Regions from separate parts of the Homo sapiens genome. Here region 1 is linked to region 2. A link means that fine-mapping ties the variant in region 2 to the expression of a gene that starts in the linked region. Tissue or cell type: thyroid. Region 2 holds a variant in brackets; the other region holds the start of a gene. All regions are shown on one strand. Distances are from middle to middle.

Region 1 (8,105 bases), 60 kb after region 2:
ACTGTTCCTCTCTCCTGAGTTTTTTATGAATCCTTACAAACATGTTTTATGTATATTACCATAATACGTACGTACACACACACACACACACACACACACACACACACACACACGTACATGTGTTCCCTCTCTCTACACAAATGGTAACATACTAAAGATACTCTTCTGTACCTTCATGGTACAAGTACCCTCAACTCCGCCTAGGATTTGACCAAGGCCACAGCCAAGTATGGGTGGGGTGGGCACTTGGCCTCCGAGCTCTGTGTCCAGTGCTCGCTCCCCACAGCGCCCCGCAACTCACCCACAGCAGCTGACTCAGCCCCAACCTGCCTCTAACAACCACGCACAAAAGCAGCAAGAAATGGCCCATGCTGTCTTCTGGGCAGGACACTGCATCCTGCAGAAGGGACCTTTAGGCTCATTCCTCCATCTGCGAAGCTGGGCTCCCAGGGGACCGGGTAGGTGGTTGGACTCACCTTGTCCGCCCTCTCGTGCTCTGCGGACATAGCAGAGAGAGCCCGCTGTAACTCTCCTGCAAAGTGCCAGGAATGATGCAGGCGGGCTGCCAGATCCTTGGAATCTTCTGGAATGAGAGAGGTTGAGCTGCAGCCCAAAGGCCTGTGAAAGTGCCAGGTTGAAGGATGACGGGGTGCCCAGATTCCCACCTTCAAATTTCCTGGCAGCATCCTGGCTGTCATGGAGCGCTGTCTCCAGTTCAGTTTTCTGACACATAAGGATTCGTATGGTATGATCCTGGGCCTTTGGGAGACAAGAAAAGCAAGTGCTGAAAGAGAAGCAAAGAAACCTTCTCCAGAGGACAGGAGGGAACTTCACACCCTCCACTCACCTCTAGCTGCCTCCTTAGGGCTTGCTGATGTTGGTGGCTTGCCTTATTTTCCTATAGAAAAGAAGAGGAAGACAGAGCTCTTACTAGAGGGAGGCAGAGATGGCACAGCAAGAGACATGCCCCCAGAATGGCCCCACTGTCCCAGGACAGGCCCACCCATGGGACCAGGTTATCAGGGACCCTGTGGGGATGGGGTGGAAGCTGGGAGGTGAGCCTTCCTCCCCAAGCTGGGAGTAGGCGAGACGAGACTGGGGCCTCTACATCTGAGTGCCCCCCAAACCCAGCGGTCATGTCGTGAGCAAAGAAAGAAACCATGTTACCTCTTTCAGCTGAGCTCGGTTCTGTTGTTTCTGTGGGGAGAGTCAAAGGAAGGTGACTGAGGGTGGTCCCTCGACTCTATTCCCCAGGCCAGGAAGCGGTAGGCAGGGGTCAGGAATGGATTTTAAGGGCAAAGTTCTCAGACCCAATGGGAACACAAACTGGTCAACTTTCCTTAACGCCCAAAGAAAAAGGATTTGGGTCTTTGTTGGCTTTTGCCCACAGCCACAGAACTGAAAGTCTGAAACTAGATTCTCTGGAAAAGACAGTAACATAAACCTTCCGACATAAGAGTGTGAGAAAAGCCCACCCTTCTGCCAGCTTGTGATGGAGAAAGATGTGTTCATTCAACAAGCATTGAGCAAGCACATAGGGGCCGGGGACGGTTCTTCACTGCTGGGATATAGGACGGAAAAGGCAGACAGGAGCCCTTGGCCCCAAGGTTTCCATTCTAGTGAATCTTTAAATCTCAGACTCTCAGAGCAAACAGAACCTCTGATACTCTAACTCTACCTCCTCAGGAAACGGAAGCCCAAAGAGGAGGGGAGCTTACAGCAGGCCCTGGACTAGGGATTAACACAAAAACAACAGCAACAAATCTGATTTAAGCTTCACACATGTAAGTAAAACATTACCATCCCCATTTTACAGATGTGAAAAGAGAGGCCCAAAGAGCTCGAGCAATTTTCCCTAAACCGTGTCCCTCGCAGTTGGAGAGAGAAGTAGGACTCAAACCCAGAATTCTTAGCCAGTACCCAGCAGTTCTTCCTTCCACAATCTTAACAGTTACCCTCGACCTCCCCCTTGTGCCCCTTGTCCTCAGGAGACCGGCCAGCCAAGACTCACATCCTCAGGCGAGTGGCAGCCCCCCGAAGTGGTTGTCTCAGGGTTAGCGCCATGATTTATTTTCTTCTTTTTGGTGTCGGTTGCTCCGGTACCAACACCAGCACTGTTCCACTGATGATAGTCTGTAAACTGTGGAAAAGAGGAGCAGTGATACTCATGAGAACTACAAGCTCCTACAGTCACTTTACAGTTTATACAAAATACTCTCATAGACGATCTGACTTAATGCCACCAACGACTGTACGAGGTGTTGTCGCAATCACTTAGTGACTGAGAGGGATTGATACCATGGCTAAAAGAAAGGCAATAATGGAACTGAAACTCAGTCTTCTGACTCTGAGCTCTGGGGTGTTGCCACAAATCAGCAGCTGCCAGAGACCAAAACCAGAGGCAGAGGTAGAAAAGTAAAAAGTAGGCAGGAAGGTGTACACTGTGTGGTTTACAGTCGTACATCCTCTTAGAGTCATGTATCCTCAGGGCAGAAGGCAGCCTTTCTGTTAAATGTGGGAATTAAACAGAAAGAGGACAACCCAAGCTGCATTTCAGAGAGAAGTCTTGTATACTCTTTGAAATCTATGTGACTATCATCCCTAAGAACATTAATGTTTTGTGTCTCCCACGAGAATCAAGGAAAACTGATGCTTCAGAAAGATGCCCCATATGTATCCTGTGGCACTCAAAGTACCCCAGGTTGAGATGAGATGAGGAAGATTCAAGTTGTCAAGTCCAGTTTCCCAAGATCTCTTGCACAGAAGATGAGCAAATCTCACTTCAAAGATCACTGACTGATGGGCACTCTGGTCCCAGAACCATGGAGAATTCAAATATGAAGTGGAGAACTTAGAAAAAACTGTTAAAGTCTCTCTGGAGAGTAGAAGCCTGGGAGAAAACCAAACCAAACCCATTATCCCATCAGTGCTGTGCCCAAGTTGCCTCTTTGAGATTGGCATGGGGTCACAGGGTTGGGACCCAGGTACTTGGAGACGTGAGCCCAAAGAGCCCAGGGAAGTCAGGCTTGGGGCAGCGGTAGGTGAGGGCCGAGTATGGAGTGGGGAGCCCCAGGAGTCACCTGCCCAAAGTCACCCTGGGGTGACTGGTGAGGGCAGGTGCTGGGGCATCCGGTTCCTTGGGAACGTGAGCCCGAAGGGCCCAGGGAGATCCATTTTTGGACAATAGGAGGTGAGGGCAGAGTACAAAGCAGGGAGCCCCACGAGTCACCGGCTGAAAGTCACCCTGGGGTGACCGGTGAGGGCAGGGGCAGGACTGCTGAGGGGTTGGGGCTGACACAAGATTTTGGTTGGGGGAGCCCAGAGGCACTGGGGGGGGCCCGGCCCTGCGTGCCTCTGGAGTGACACGGATTCTGGCAGCTGTTCTGCCATCAGAGGGGACCTGGGGCTGGGTTGGGGTTGGGGTGCTGCAATCCGATGCGTTTTACCTTTTTCTTGGTCCCAGCCAATTTTCTTTGTTGGGTTTTTTCGGACATCATGGGGTGGGGAGGGTGGTGGGGTTGGGGTCACATTGGCGTGATCCAGGCGAGGACAGTGATATGCCTCCAGTCACGTACCACACAGCTATGTGACTGAGCCACAGGAGGCGTCACCGGGGCTGCACTAGAATGCGGAAAAGGGGCGTGGCCTTAATGCTCCAAGCCCATTGGTCAATGAGAAAGATGAAAGGGAAAGGAGGCGGGGCCAGGCAGCTGCGGGTCATGAAGGTCCTGTGATGTCACAAGGAAAGCCTCCCATGGAACTGCTGTCCCCGCCCACTCTGGGAGAGGGGCGGGGCTGGCTTTCACTTACTTTTTTTTTTTTTTACATATATAACTTTTTATTATAATTTAAGGTATAGTCGATAATATAATGTTTTTTTTTGTTTTGTTTTGTTTTGTTTTTTTTAATTGATCATTGGGTGTTTCTCGCAGAGGGGGATTTGGCAGGGTCATAGGACAATAGTGGAGGGAAGGTCAGCAGATAAACAAGTGAACAAAGGTCTCTGGTTTTCCTAGGCAGAGGACCCTACGGCCTTCTGCAGTGTTTGTGTCCCGGGGTACTTGAGATTAGAGAGTGGTGATGACTTTTAACGAGCATGCTGCCTTCAAACATCTGTTTAACAAAGCACATCTTGCACCGCCCTTAATCCATTTAACCCTGAGTGGACACAGCACATGTTTCAGAGAGCACAGGGTTGGGGGTAAGGTCACAGATCAACAGGATCCCAAGGCAGAATAATTTTTCTTAGTACAGAACAAAATGAGAAGTCTCCCATGTCTACCTCCCTCTACACAGACACGGCAACCATCCAACCTCTCAATCTTTTCCCCACCTTTCCCCCCTTTCTATTCTACAAAACCGCCATTGTCATCATGGCCCATTCTCAATGAGCTGCTGGGCACACCTCCCAGACGGGGTGGCGGCCAGGCAGAGGGGCTCCTCACTTCCCAGTAGGGGCAGCCGGGCAGAGGCGCCCCTCACCTCCCGGACGGGGCGACTGGCTGGGCGGGGGGCTGACCCCCCCACCTCCCTCCCGGACGGGGTGGCTGGCCGGGCAGAGGGGCTCCTCACTTCCCAGTAGGGGCGGCCGGGCAGAGGCGCCCCTCACCTCCCGGACGGGGCGGCTGGCCAGGCGGGGGGCTGACCCCCCCACCTCCCTCCCGGACGGGGCGGCTGGCCGGGCGGGGGTTGACCCCCACCTCCCTCCCGGACGGGGTGGCTGCCGGGCGGAGACGCTCCTCACTTCCCAGACGGGGTGGCTGCCGGGCGGAGGGGCTCCTCACTTCTCTGACGGGGCGGCTGCCGGGTGGAGGGGCTCCTCACTTCTCAGATGGGGCGGTTGCCAGGCGGAGGGTCTCCTCACTTCTCAGACGGGGCGGCCGGGCAGAGACGCTCCTCACCTTCCAGGCGGGGTCGCGGCCGGGTAGAGGCGCTCCTCACATCCCAGACGGGGTGGCGGGGCAGAGGCGCTCCCCACATCTCAGACGATGGGCGGCCGGGCAGAGGCGCTCCTCACTTCCTAGATGGGATGGCGGCCGGGAAGAGGCGCTCCTCATTTTCCAGACTGGGCAGCCAGGCAGAGGGGCTCCTCACATCCCAGACGATGGGCAGCCAGGCAGAGACGCTCCTCACTTCCCAGACGATGGGCGGCCAGGCAGAGACGCTCCTCACTTCCCAGACGGGGTGGCAGCCGGGCAGAGGCTGCAATCTCGGCACTTTGGGGGGCCAAGGCAGGCGGCTGGGAGGTGGAGGTTGTAGCGAGCCGAGATCACGCCACTGCACTCCAGCCTGGGCACCATTGAGCGCTGAGTGAACCAGACTCCGTCTGCAATCCCGGCACCTCGGGAGGCCGAGGCTGGCAGATCACTCGCGGTTAGGAGCTGGAGACCAGCCCGGCCAACACAGCGAAACCCCGTCTCCACCAAAAAAATACGAAAACCAGTCAGGCGTGGCGGCGCGCGCCTGCAATCGCAGGCACTCGGCAGGCTGAGGCAGGAGAATCAGGCAGGGAGGTTGCAGTGAGCCGAGATGGCAGCAGTACAGTCCAGCTTCGGCACAGCATCAGAGGGAGACCGTGGAAAGAGAGGGAGAGGGAGACCGTGGGGAGAGGGAGAGGGAGAGGGAGACCGTGGGGAGAGGGAGAGGGAGACCGTGGGGAGAGGGAGAGGGAGAGGGAGAGGGAGAGGGACTCACTTTCTAAACTTTAAAACTTTATCACCTTAGTTGAGGTACAAATCCTGTTGTAATGGAAAATTTACAGCGTGCTTAATGATTAGTAAAGCAGATTATATTATCCAACATTCCAATAAGATAAAATAATCACAGTGATTTCTCTTTTTTGGAAAAAGTTTCTCTTATTCTCCTACATTATTGTTAAGTTTTTTTTTTTTTTAAACTAGAGATATGTCTAATATATTTTAAAACACAAAGCTTTTGAGGTGGGTGTGGTGGCTCATGCCTGTCATCCCAGCACATTGGTAGGCTGAGATGGGCATATCACCTGAGATCAGGAGTCAAGACCAAAATTTTAGTATTTTAGTGTGTATTTTAGTATTTATTTTAGTATTTAATACATCATTTAGGGCTACATGTAGCCACAGAAAGAATAAATCTGATTCAGTGACTTAAAGAAATATAGATTTCATTTTTGTCACTTAAAACGTGCAGAGGAAGGCAGTCCAGGGTTCTTTTCAGTTTCCTGATACTTCCTTAGCCTGGTTTCTATTCTTGTGGTCACAATGTGGCTGCTGTTTTTCCAGGCCTTGGATTGCCTTCCAAGGAGGGAAAGATGAAAGGTCAAAAGGCTGAGTTTGTCTCTTTTTAGCTGAAAAACACAGATTTCTCAAAAGTTGTAAAATTATACTGCAATTCAATTTTCATCCTTTTTTTTTTTTTTTTTTTTGAAACGCAGTCTTGCTCTGTTGCCAGGCTGGAGTGCAGTGGCACAATCTCGGCTCACTGTCATAATGTCCGCCTCCATGGTTCAAGTGATTCTCCTACCTCAGCCTCCCTAATAGCTAGGAATACAGGCGCATGACACCACGCCCGACTCATTTCTATTTGTATTTTTAGTAGAGACGAGATTTCACCATGTTGGCCAGGCTGGTTTTGAACTCCAGACCTTGTGATCCGCCCACCTCTGCCTCCCAAAGTGCTGGAATTAGAGGCATGAGCCACTGCGCCTGGCCTGCAATTTTCATCTTTTGGCTGCAAATAAGTTATGTCACTATTCTCAGCTGGGGGAGTGTTTAACTCACATGTTGCTTCCTCTCTGTTACACAGGTTTTAAGATTTATGAATAGGTACTGAATTGTATCAATTGCTTTTTTCTTTCTTGATTGAGCAGTGTTTTTTCTTATCTTTTTATGTTGATAAGGTAACTTAACAGTGATTGGCTTTTGAATGTTGAACATTGCATTTTGGAATTAAATCAACTTTGTTGTGATAAATGATTAATACCATATTATATATGGTTGAGATGGGTTTGCTCCTAGTTCATTTGGTAGTTTTGTACTTACGTTCACAAGAGAAAGTGGAGTCTAAGTTTTTCTGTGTGTTTTTTTTTTTTTTTTTTTTTTTTTTGCCACGGAGTCTCGCCCTGTTGTCCAGGCTGGAATGCAGTGGCATGATCTCGGCTCATTGCAAGCTCCGCCTTCCGGGTTCACGCCATTCTCCTGCTTCAGCCTCCCGAGTAGTTGGGACTATAGGCGCCCACCACCACCCCTGGCTAATTTATTGTATTTTTTTAGTAGAGACGGGGTTTCACCGTGTTAGCCAGGATGGTCTCGATCTCCTGACCTCGTGATCCACCCGCCTCAGCCTCCCAAAGTGCTGGGATTACAGGCGTGAGCCACTGCACCCAGACTTGTGAGGTTTTAATATGAAGTATTAAAGCTATGCTGGTTAGACAATTTGAGAAATGTTTCTTCTCCTATTTCTGACAGAGTTTATGTAAGATGTGTGCTATTTCTTCCTTAAGCATTTGGAAAGAATTCACTTATTAAGCCATGTGAGACTGTAGTTTTCTTTATAAGGTGTTTAATTACAGGTTCAATTACATATATATGAATATTCATTTCGGTAACCTGTGTTTGCTGAATCAATTTGTTCATTTTATCTAAAATTTCAAAGTTGTTCTATTATTCATTTATCTTTTTAATACTTATAAGGTGTGCGGTTAGAATTTGTGCCTTTTGTCTGTTTTGTTAATCAATCTTGCTGGGGGCCATCAATTTTATCAGTGTTTCAAAAAAGCAAACTTTGATTTTATTCATCCCTTTACCATACTAAAAATGTTTTGCTTAATTTCCAAACTTACACTTCCACTGTGATTAAATATTTGTATAACTAAAACTCTTTGGAATTTGTGTCTTCTCAATGATTAAAAATATGATTAATTTTTATAAATATTGCTTCTGCACTTGAAAAGGATATGTATTCTGCATGTTGAGCGTAGTGTACCACGTATCTCAATTAGACGGAGCGTGTTAAATGCATCCTTTAAAGATTCTATTTCCTTACTGATGTTTGTCTATTTTTCAGTGGCTGAGACACAGATATGAAACTTTCCCACAATCATCGTCAACTTATTTCTTTTTTTCGTT
Region 2 (8,105 bases):
AGCGGGGCCTGGTGGGCCCGGCGGGTAGTCCCAGCTACTCTGAAGGCTGATGTAGGAGGATTGCTTGAGCCGGAGAGGGGTGGGGGTGAGGTGGCAGTGAGCCATGTTGGCGCTGCTGCAGTCCAAACTGGGCGATAGAGCGGGACTGTGTCTCAGGAAAACAGGAAAAAAAAAAAAGAAGAAAAAGAAAGTACATAAAATTGCTAAATCAAGGAACAGCTTGACAGTATATTATTGAGAGAAATAGAGGCAAAGGCGAGCAGACACCAATGTTCACTTAGTGGAACTGCAGTTGTCCCCAGACAGGAGGCTGCTACTTTTCCAAAAGAAATCTATTATTGACAAAAAAAAAAAAAAAGGGGGTTTGTTACAATATACAAATAGCTAAACTTTATATAGCCACGACCCTCTTGCAGCACTGCTCTAAGCCTTTTCCTGCTCTGAAATAGCTACTATTGTTACCTCCATTGTAGAGAATACAGATGCCAGAGGTTGTTGTGGAAGGACCATGGAAACTGACTAGGAAATTGACTTGTAAGTTTAGGACTTAAAGGTTCTTCCTGTTTTGCTCCTTACATTGCCACATTTTAGTTAACATACCTCCTAAAATACTGGTCCTTTCTATATTTGGAGGGACTCGTCTTGCAGTTTGAAGTTTTTTCTTGCACTAAGCATTTGGTCAGAAGATCATGTGCGTTTTATGTCAGTTTAAGTTTAGACATTGTTCAGTAAGGAATGTAAATATGAGCAAACAGTTACCTGATTAAATAGAAAACCTAGAAGAAAAATCACCTATGAGAAAGTCAAGAAAATGTGAACTCTGGATTTGTGGCTATTTTCAGAATATTAATTTTTTTGGTATTTAATGGCATTGTGAATATATTTATTTTTAAAAATTCCTTGTCTTCTGCAGATACATATACGGTAATTAAAAAATGATATGATGTATAGATTTTACTTCAAAATAATTCAGAGGAAGAAGGAATGCATATAAATGAAGTGGGAATATAAATGAAACAAAACTGGCTGTGGCCAGGTGTGGTGGCTCACGCCTGTAATCCCAGCACTTTGGGAGACTGAGGCAGGTGGATCACCTGAGGTCAGGAGTTCAAGACCAGCCTGGCCAACGTGGTGAAACATCATCTCTACTAAAAATACAACAGTTAGCCGGATGTGGTGCCGGGTGCCTGTAATCCCAGCTACTTGGGAGGCTGAGGCAGGAGAATCGCTTGAACCTGAGAGGCAGAATTTGCAGTGAGCCAAGATCATGACACTGCACTCCAGCCTGGGCGACCACAGCAAAATCCCACCTTTAAAAACAAACAACAAAAAACCAACAAAAACAAAAAACTGTCCATGCCATGAATGAAAAATTGTTGATGATGTGTATATGTAGGGCAGTTACATTATTTTTCTCAACTTTTTTTACATCTGAAACTTTTTAATGAACACATGCACACGTCCCTTGATAACTGGGGCTGCTTCCCCATTACTCTCTCAATAGCCCTTCTGATTTTCACTTCATCTTCATTCTTAGAGACTCTGGATTTTTTATTTTTTTTGGCAAGTTCAAGTATGTCTTGATCTATGCAAGGACTAGCCAGCATGTCTACCTACTCAGCCATATTATCAGAAACAGAAAAAGTGTCCAGATTCTTGTCTTTTCCTGTTAAGATTTTTTAAATTCCAAGAACAGTCACCTTCTACCAGACACTCTGATGTTGGAAGACAAAGCATATTTCGTAAGTGGCATGATTTCTGTGCTCAAGTTTAGAACAAAGCCACAGATTTCAACATCTCAAAAATAACTTACTGGACTCACCAAATTTAGAAAGATGGAGATTATTTTAAAAAAAGAAAACCTTAATTTACTATGTGACCTCTAAGTATCTCAGCTGAAAATTGTAAAGATAGGTAAATCAAAAGATGCAGATAATCATGCACTTAATGAAGCGCTAAATCAAAGTATTTTTGGCATATGTGAGTTTCATTTTATCACATTTTTTACTGGTACTATAGCTATTTGCAAGTACATATAGAACTACAGTGTTACATATAAACTACCAAAAAGCAACTTTTTAAAAAAATTTTATTATTCTTATACTTTAAGTTTTAGGGTAGATGTGCACAAAGTACAGGTTAGTTCCATATGTATACATGTGCCATGTTGGTGTGCTGCACCCATTCACTTGTCATTTAGCATTAGGTATACCTCCTAATGCTATCCCTCCCCCTCCCCCCACCCCACAACAGTCCCCGGTGTGTGATGTTCCCCTTCCTGTGTCTATGTGTTCTCATTCTTCAATTCCCACCTATGAGTGAGAACATGCGGTGTTTGTTTTTTTGTCCTTGCGATAGTTTGCTGAGAATGATGGTTTCCAGTTTCATCCATGTCCCTACAAAGGACGTGAACTCATCATTTTTTTATGGCTGCATAGCATTCGTTGGTGTATATATGCCACCTTTTCTTAATCCAGTCTATCATTGTTAGACATTTGGGTTGGTTCCAAGTCTTTGCTATTGTGAATAATGCCGCAATAAACATATGTGTGCATGTGTCTTTATAGCAGCATGATTTATAGTCCTTTGGGTATATACCCAGTAATGGGATGGCTGGGTCAAATGGTATTTCTAGTTCTAGATCCCTGAGGATCTAGACACACTGACTTCCACAGTGGTTGAACTAGTTTACAGTCCCACCAACAGTGTAAAAGTGTTCCTATTTCTCCACATCCTCTCCAGCACCTGTTGTTTCCTGACTTTTTAATGATCGCCATTCTAACTGGTGTGAGATGGTATCTCATTGTGGTTTTGATTTGCATTTCTCTGATGGCCAGTGATGATGAGCATTTCTTCATGTGCTTTTTGGCTGCATAAATGTCTTCTTTTGAGAAGTGTCTGTTCATATCCTTTGCCCACTTTTTGATGGGGTTGCTTGTATTTTTCTTGTAAATTTGTTGGAGTTCATTGTAGATTCTGGATATTAGTCCTTTGTGAGATGAGTAGGTTGCGAAAATTTTCTCCCATTTTGTCAAAAAACAGCTTTTTAAGAAATGAGACTAATCTAGCAACTTTATTGAGAGGACGTGAAGTGTTTGGTTAGGAATGGTGCAATTGGTGGTGGTTGTGGACATGTGAGATGTAAGATGCCTCAACTTCCAATGTTGTTCAGAAGCAATCCAGCTTTCTGAATTATTCTTATGAATTCTGGATTTGAAACAGTAACTTCCCAAATGGCAGGGGCTTTCAGCAGAGAGGAACCTGGAGGGACCCTGTCCCTGACACCTTCTGGGTTGTTAGCTCCAGATCAAAAGAACTCCTGATTTGGAAAAAGCTTCTTGAAAAGAAGAGGGGAGGTGACCTTGGTGAAGCCTCTGGGGACATGAGCTATTTTTAGGGCTTTTGGCAGGAAAAGAGCTTTTGAAAACGGAGATAAGGCATGGTATTAAAAAGGCTTACATTGGAGAAAGAAATCATAAAACTCCATACAGTTAGGGCAATAGTTTTGTTTTTTACTAGGACAGCATCAGTTTATTGGAGTATTTATATAACATAAGCAAGGTCTCTTGATATTTTAACAATTAACAACTGGATTTTATTTTCTACTATAGGTGCAGTTTATCATTCTGAATCCAAAGCCAAGGAATATAAACATGTATGCAAACGAGCTTGTCAGAGAGTATCAACGCAATGTGTATCATCTATGCTTTTCAGTTTTGAACATAAAGCAGTGGCTCTGAGCGCGACTCGGAGGGCGACGCCGCGGCCGCA[G/A]CCATGGGTGCTGGGCCTGCAGGGGCGCGGGGGGGAGGGCGACGCTAGGACCTGCGGGGCCGGGCGGGAGAGAGGGCTGCCGGGACCGGCCCTAGACACTGAGCCGCGGTGGGATCCCCGCCGGCTCTGCGAGGCCCTGCGAGCGCCAGGGAGGCGCCTCGAGGGAGCCGGGCAGCCGCCGGCCACTTCAGGGGGGCCCGCCACTTCAGGGCGGTCGAAAGAGCCTTGGGGGCACATCTCGGGGTGCGGTGACCCGCCCGGCGCATTTCGGGGGTCGGGGCGCATTTGCCAGGGGACATCTGGAGCCCGGCCCTGCTTCTGTCGGGCTCCAGGGTACCCCTGGATGGCTGCGCTGTGCCCTCGCCGGCGGCCCGGGCGCCACAGCGGCTGAGTTCGCCGGGATCGCCGGGCCGCCGCCGCCCTTGCCACCGGCTGCATGCTCGGCGCCCGGGTCGCGGCCCACCTGGACGCACTGGGCCCCCTGGTCCCCTACGTGCCGCCGCCGCTGCTGCCCTCTATGTTCTACGTGGGCCTGTTCTTCGTCAATGTGCTGATCCTGTACTACGCCTTCCTCATGGAGTACATCGTCCTCAACGTGGGCCTCGTCTTCCTGTTCGAGGACATGGACCAGGCGCTCGTGGACCTCGGCGTGCTCTCCGACCCCGGCTCGGGCCTTTACGATGCTGACTCGGAGCTCGACGTCTTTGATGGGTACTTGGAGTAGGGTCTCGACTGCCGTTCCCCTCTTCCCTCCACGATCCGCAACCCACGCCCTGGACCAGCCGCCCAGATCATGGCGCCGCAGCAGCTGGTTGGGGGCACCATCTGGACGGGGATGGTTCCCCAGGAGGAGACCCTCCCCTGCCTCCGAGGCCTGCCTGCTACCCTCAAAAGCTTCGTGCCAACAGAGAGGTTCCTGTTTGGACCCAGGAGAGTGGAAGAGAGATTGGGACTGAGTGCTGAGATTGGGAAGGCACCTGCTCCCACAGAAGGGGGAACGCAAGGGGCGTCCCAAGACCTCATCTGCCTGCAGCGTCACACCGATGGCCTGGCCTCGGCTTCTCATTATTTGCAACTGCCATGGATGTTTACAGGAACCCAGCCAGAGTTTGCCTCCCTGCACTTCATCCCAGAGCGCACCTGCTTCCTCCACTTCACCTTCGGAGAGGACACTTCAAACTGCGGACACACGCAAAAGCAACTCCCAGCTCTGTTTGATGTGAGTTGAGCCTTCAGGCCAGCTGGGTTTAGCCCGAGGCTGGTCTTAGATGCAGCGACTGTTTCAGGGAGTGACTCAGAATAAAAAGAAGCTGAGGAAGCTGTTGGGGGGCTGAGGATGAGATTCTCGCTTCTTCATTTCAGGTTACTCGTTCCTCAGCAAGTTGGCAAAACAGATATCATGCTGGTGAGTGCCACGTTACTCCCCTGGCTGCAAATGCTTTTCTGAAAGTATGAGTGTCGTGCCTACTTAATTCTGATAAACCTGTTTAAGCAATACTTAGGAGGCTGACTTCTTTGGATTAAAAAAATGTATGCAACTCCAAAAAAAAAAAAAAAAAAAAGAAATTCAACATTTAAAAGTTTCATTTCTAGGGCAGTCTTCCGGTTTGGACTACAAAATTATTTTGCTTGTTTTTGTAGGGGATCGTTTTGTGTTGTTTTGTGTCTTTCTCCACATGATGCTTAGCTCTTTCCCCACGTCCCAGATTAAAGTCTGTATTTTTGTAATTGTGGGCACACAATCATATCTCTTTTAATCTTTGCAACGATGTTGAACTTCTGTAGACAGAAGGATAGAGAAAACAGCTTGAAGGCAGTCAGTGTGTTTTTCCATGAAGGGAAAAAAATAAATAAAAAAATTAAAATGGGTGCTTTTTTAAGAGAGATTGTCCTATACTTTTTCATTCTGTTTTTCATCACGTAGTTTGTATCATAGCAAGTTCATTGTCATTCCAGAGTTCAGCTTTGCCCTTGTACTCAGTTGTGCTTTTTTCCCATTGGTTTTTGAGGTTTTGCTAAACTGTTGAATATTTAATGTGGGGACAGGAATGGACTCAGAAGAAATGTTTTTTATTTTGATTCTTACTAGTCTTGTAGGCAAACCTTCCATTACTTTTTATGCAAATAGGATCTAGTTGAATATTGTATATCGAGTAAATATGCGTCTCTCTCTGCTCTTTTCGTTGATATTTACATAACATTAAAAAGATTATACTTTATCAGAGATTCAAGCTTTTTCTTATGAATGAAGCCCTATAAATAAGAATATTTTGTTACAGGGATTTTGTTCTTTTGAAATTTATAACAATAAAGCTAAAAGTTCTCTAAGCTGTTTTATATTTTTTCTTATTTTTCAAAGTGTGAAATTTTTCTATCATCTGAAAATAAATTTTATGTAACTATAGTCTTAGAAATTTAATACATTTGAATTGTATATTTAGCCTCTTTAATATTTCCAATGAATACACTTCTTAAAAGTTTAATTAGGAATACAGTTCTTAGTTTTTGAGCTTTCTCTTTGTTGACTAAATTGAAATGTTAATAAATCATTTATAAATGACTTTTCCTTCTCTCTCTTTTCCTCTCCTAATTTATGCTCAAGGCCAGGTGATTTTATAGACCTTTATTCTGTGTAGTTTATATTACAAAATAATATGTTACATCTTGATTTAGAATTTACATTATAGTATCCAAAATGTTTTTGTCAAATGTGTGCTTTTATCCTCAGATTCCGGCGCCCCTGTGACTCAGAGTCACTTCTTTTTAGGTATGGAGAGTATTAACGGGGAGGAGAAATGATTCGTTTGAGATTTAGTTATCTATATAAAATACGAATTGTCAGGATATTTGAACCAAACTGGGTCATACAATTTCTGTGGCTATTTTGAATAGCCTTACAATGAATTAAGCTTACTAAATTCCTTGTACTTTTCATTTAATAGCTAGATGTTATTGTTTTAATTTGAATAATATTAAGTGAGCCATATTACCAATTAACCTGAATATAAACACTTGCTTGTTTTTAATCTGAGTAGTTTATGTCTTAAAGTATGGAATGGAACTAGTGGTCAATTTTTATTAATCTAAGTGTCTCCCATACTTCTTTAAGCTTTTGGAAAGTTTGGGAAGTTGTGATTTTGCAATGAATAATCTCTCCCCTTGGTTTCATAGGCAATTGAAAAGCTGCAGGCGGGTGCTCTTGCAACTGACGCAGTCACTGCAGCACTGGTGGAACTTGAGGTATTTCTTTTCTCTGTTTTATTGAAAATACTTGTGAGTTTATCTTTATTGTTCTTAAATGACATGAAACTGTTGAGTTAGTCAACCATAAATTATATGACCAGTGTTGCCCACCAATATTAGCACAGTTATGAAGAAGCCTATGATATTGTTGTTTTCATTGGTGACTTTTCTGAGTAATATGAAAGTTGGTTAAATTCCTTCCTTTTCTTGATTTTTTTTTTTTTGTGAGATTCATGAATACAAAAGTTAGTGACTGGATACTGAAGTTTCTCATTTTCAGTAGGAAAATCCTTGAAGTTAACCCCCAAAAAGTGATGTATGTTCTGTTGTTTAAAAATAAATTCCAACTGTCTAGAAGTGCCTAAAGTAGAAGGGGAAGATTCTTCACGAACCTAACAGTTAGATATATACCCTGAAATTGTGTGCTGTGAAGTGTGCCTTGTCCCAGTGTTATGGTTAGGTTTGTCCCCAGTTTACTGTGGACATCGAATAATTGAGTGGGGAGGCTCTCACGTTTGCCATAATTTTTTATACTCTAGAGTGAGGTCCTCTCAGTTCTCTTGATTTGGACCCTTGATGAATTTGTGCAGGGGATATTGAGGTCTTCAGAAGATTGACTTGCTGCTCGAACTTGGAGAAGATAGATTTGTATCTATCAGTTGAGAGGATTATCGTGAAAAATATTTTTCTGGTTGAGAATACTCCTTAGGGAATCAAGTAAGACATGATGACGAAACAATGATGAGTTTGAGGGAGGAGATGATAGTTAAAGGCGACATTTCCAGGTTGACTGGGTTGTGGCCCTTGTATTCAGGCGCTCATACCAGGGCACGCACCCTTTCATGCCTTTCCTTGTGAAAATTGCCCAGGTGTTTACCAAAAGTCCTAGCCGTGTTTTCTGTATATTCTCATGCTTAATTGTGGACCTGAGCTTTTGATCATGCTTTGTAGATTTTAATTTCTCTTGGTAATGTCAGATTGGTCCTAATGTAGTCAAGGAAGGTGAAAGAATATGGTGAGCACCTAGTTCTATTGAATCTTACATGGGGATGTGTGATGCCCTCCTAATATGACTGATACATTTCATGCCA

Alleles and levels. Alleles are on the strand shown, and positions count from the first base shown. SD is a standard deviation of normalised expression in the study named.
For the expression in thyroid of the gene that starts at base 3,592 in region 1, A is the low allele of the variant in region 2 and G is the other (small effect, 0.32 SD a copy in GTEx).

What was found. PIP is the estimated chance that this variant, and not a neighbour inherited with it, causes the effect.
Region 1: it holds the start of GOLGA6L7, and the variant in region 2 is fine-mapped to the expression of GOLGA6L7 in thyroid (GTEx, PIP 0.99).

The regions. Positions count from the first base shown.
Region 1 is chr15:28,845,053-28,853,157 of GRCh38, forward strand. GOLGA6L7 (golgin A6 family like 7) reads right to left here and starts at 3,592. Exons shown (of 9, transcript NM_001365371.2): 1 at 3,447-3,592; 2 at 2,012-2,140; 3 at 1,168-1,197; 4 at 848-898; 5 at 666-759; 6 at 477-583. The coding sequence starts at 3,497. It also overlaps the pseudogene PDCD6IPP2. RefSeq lists a silencer at 3,726-3,860.
Region 2 is chr15:28,784,992-28,793,096 of GRCh38, forward strand. It overlaps the pseudogene LOC100289656 and the pseudogene PDCD6IPP2. Among named protein-coding and RNA genes, the nearest start is that of GOLGA6L7, 60 kb to the right of the region's middle. The variant G/A (reference allele first, on the strand shown) is at 3,772.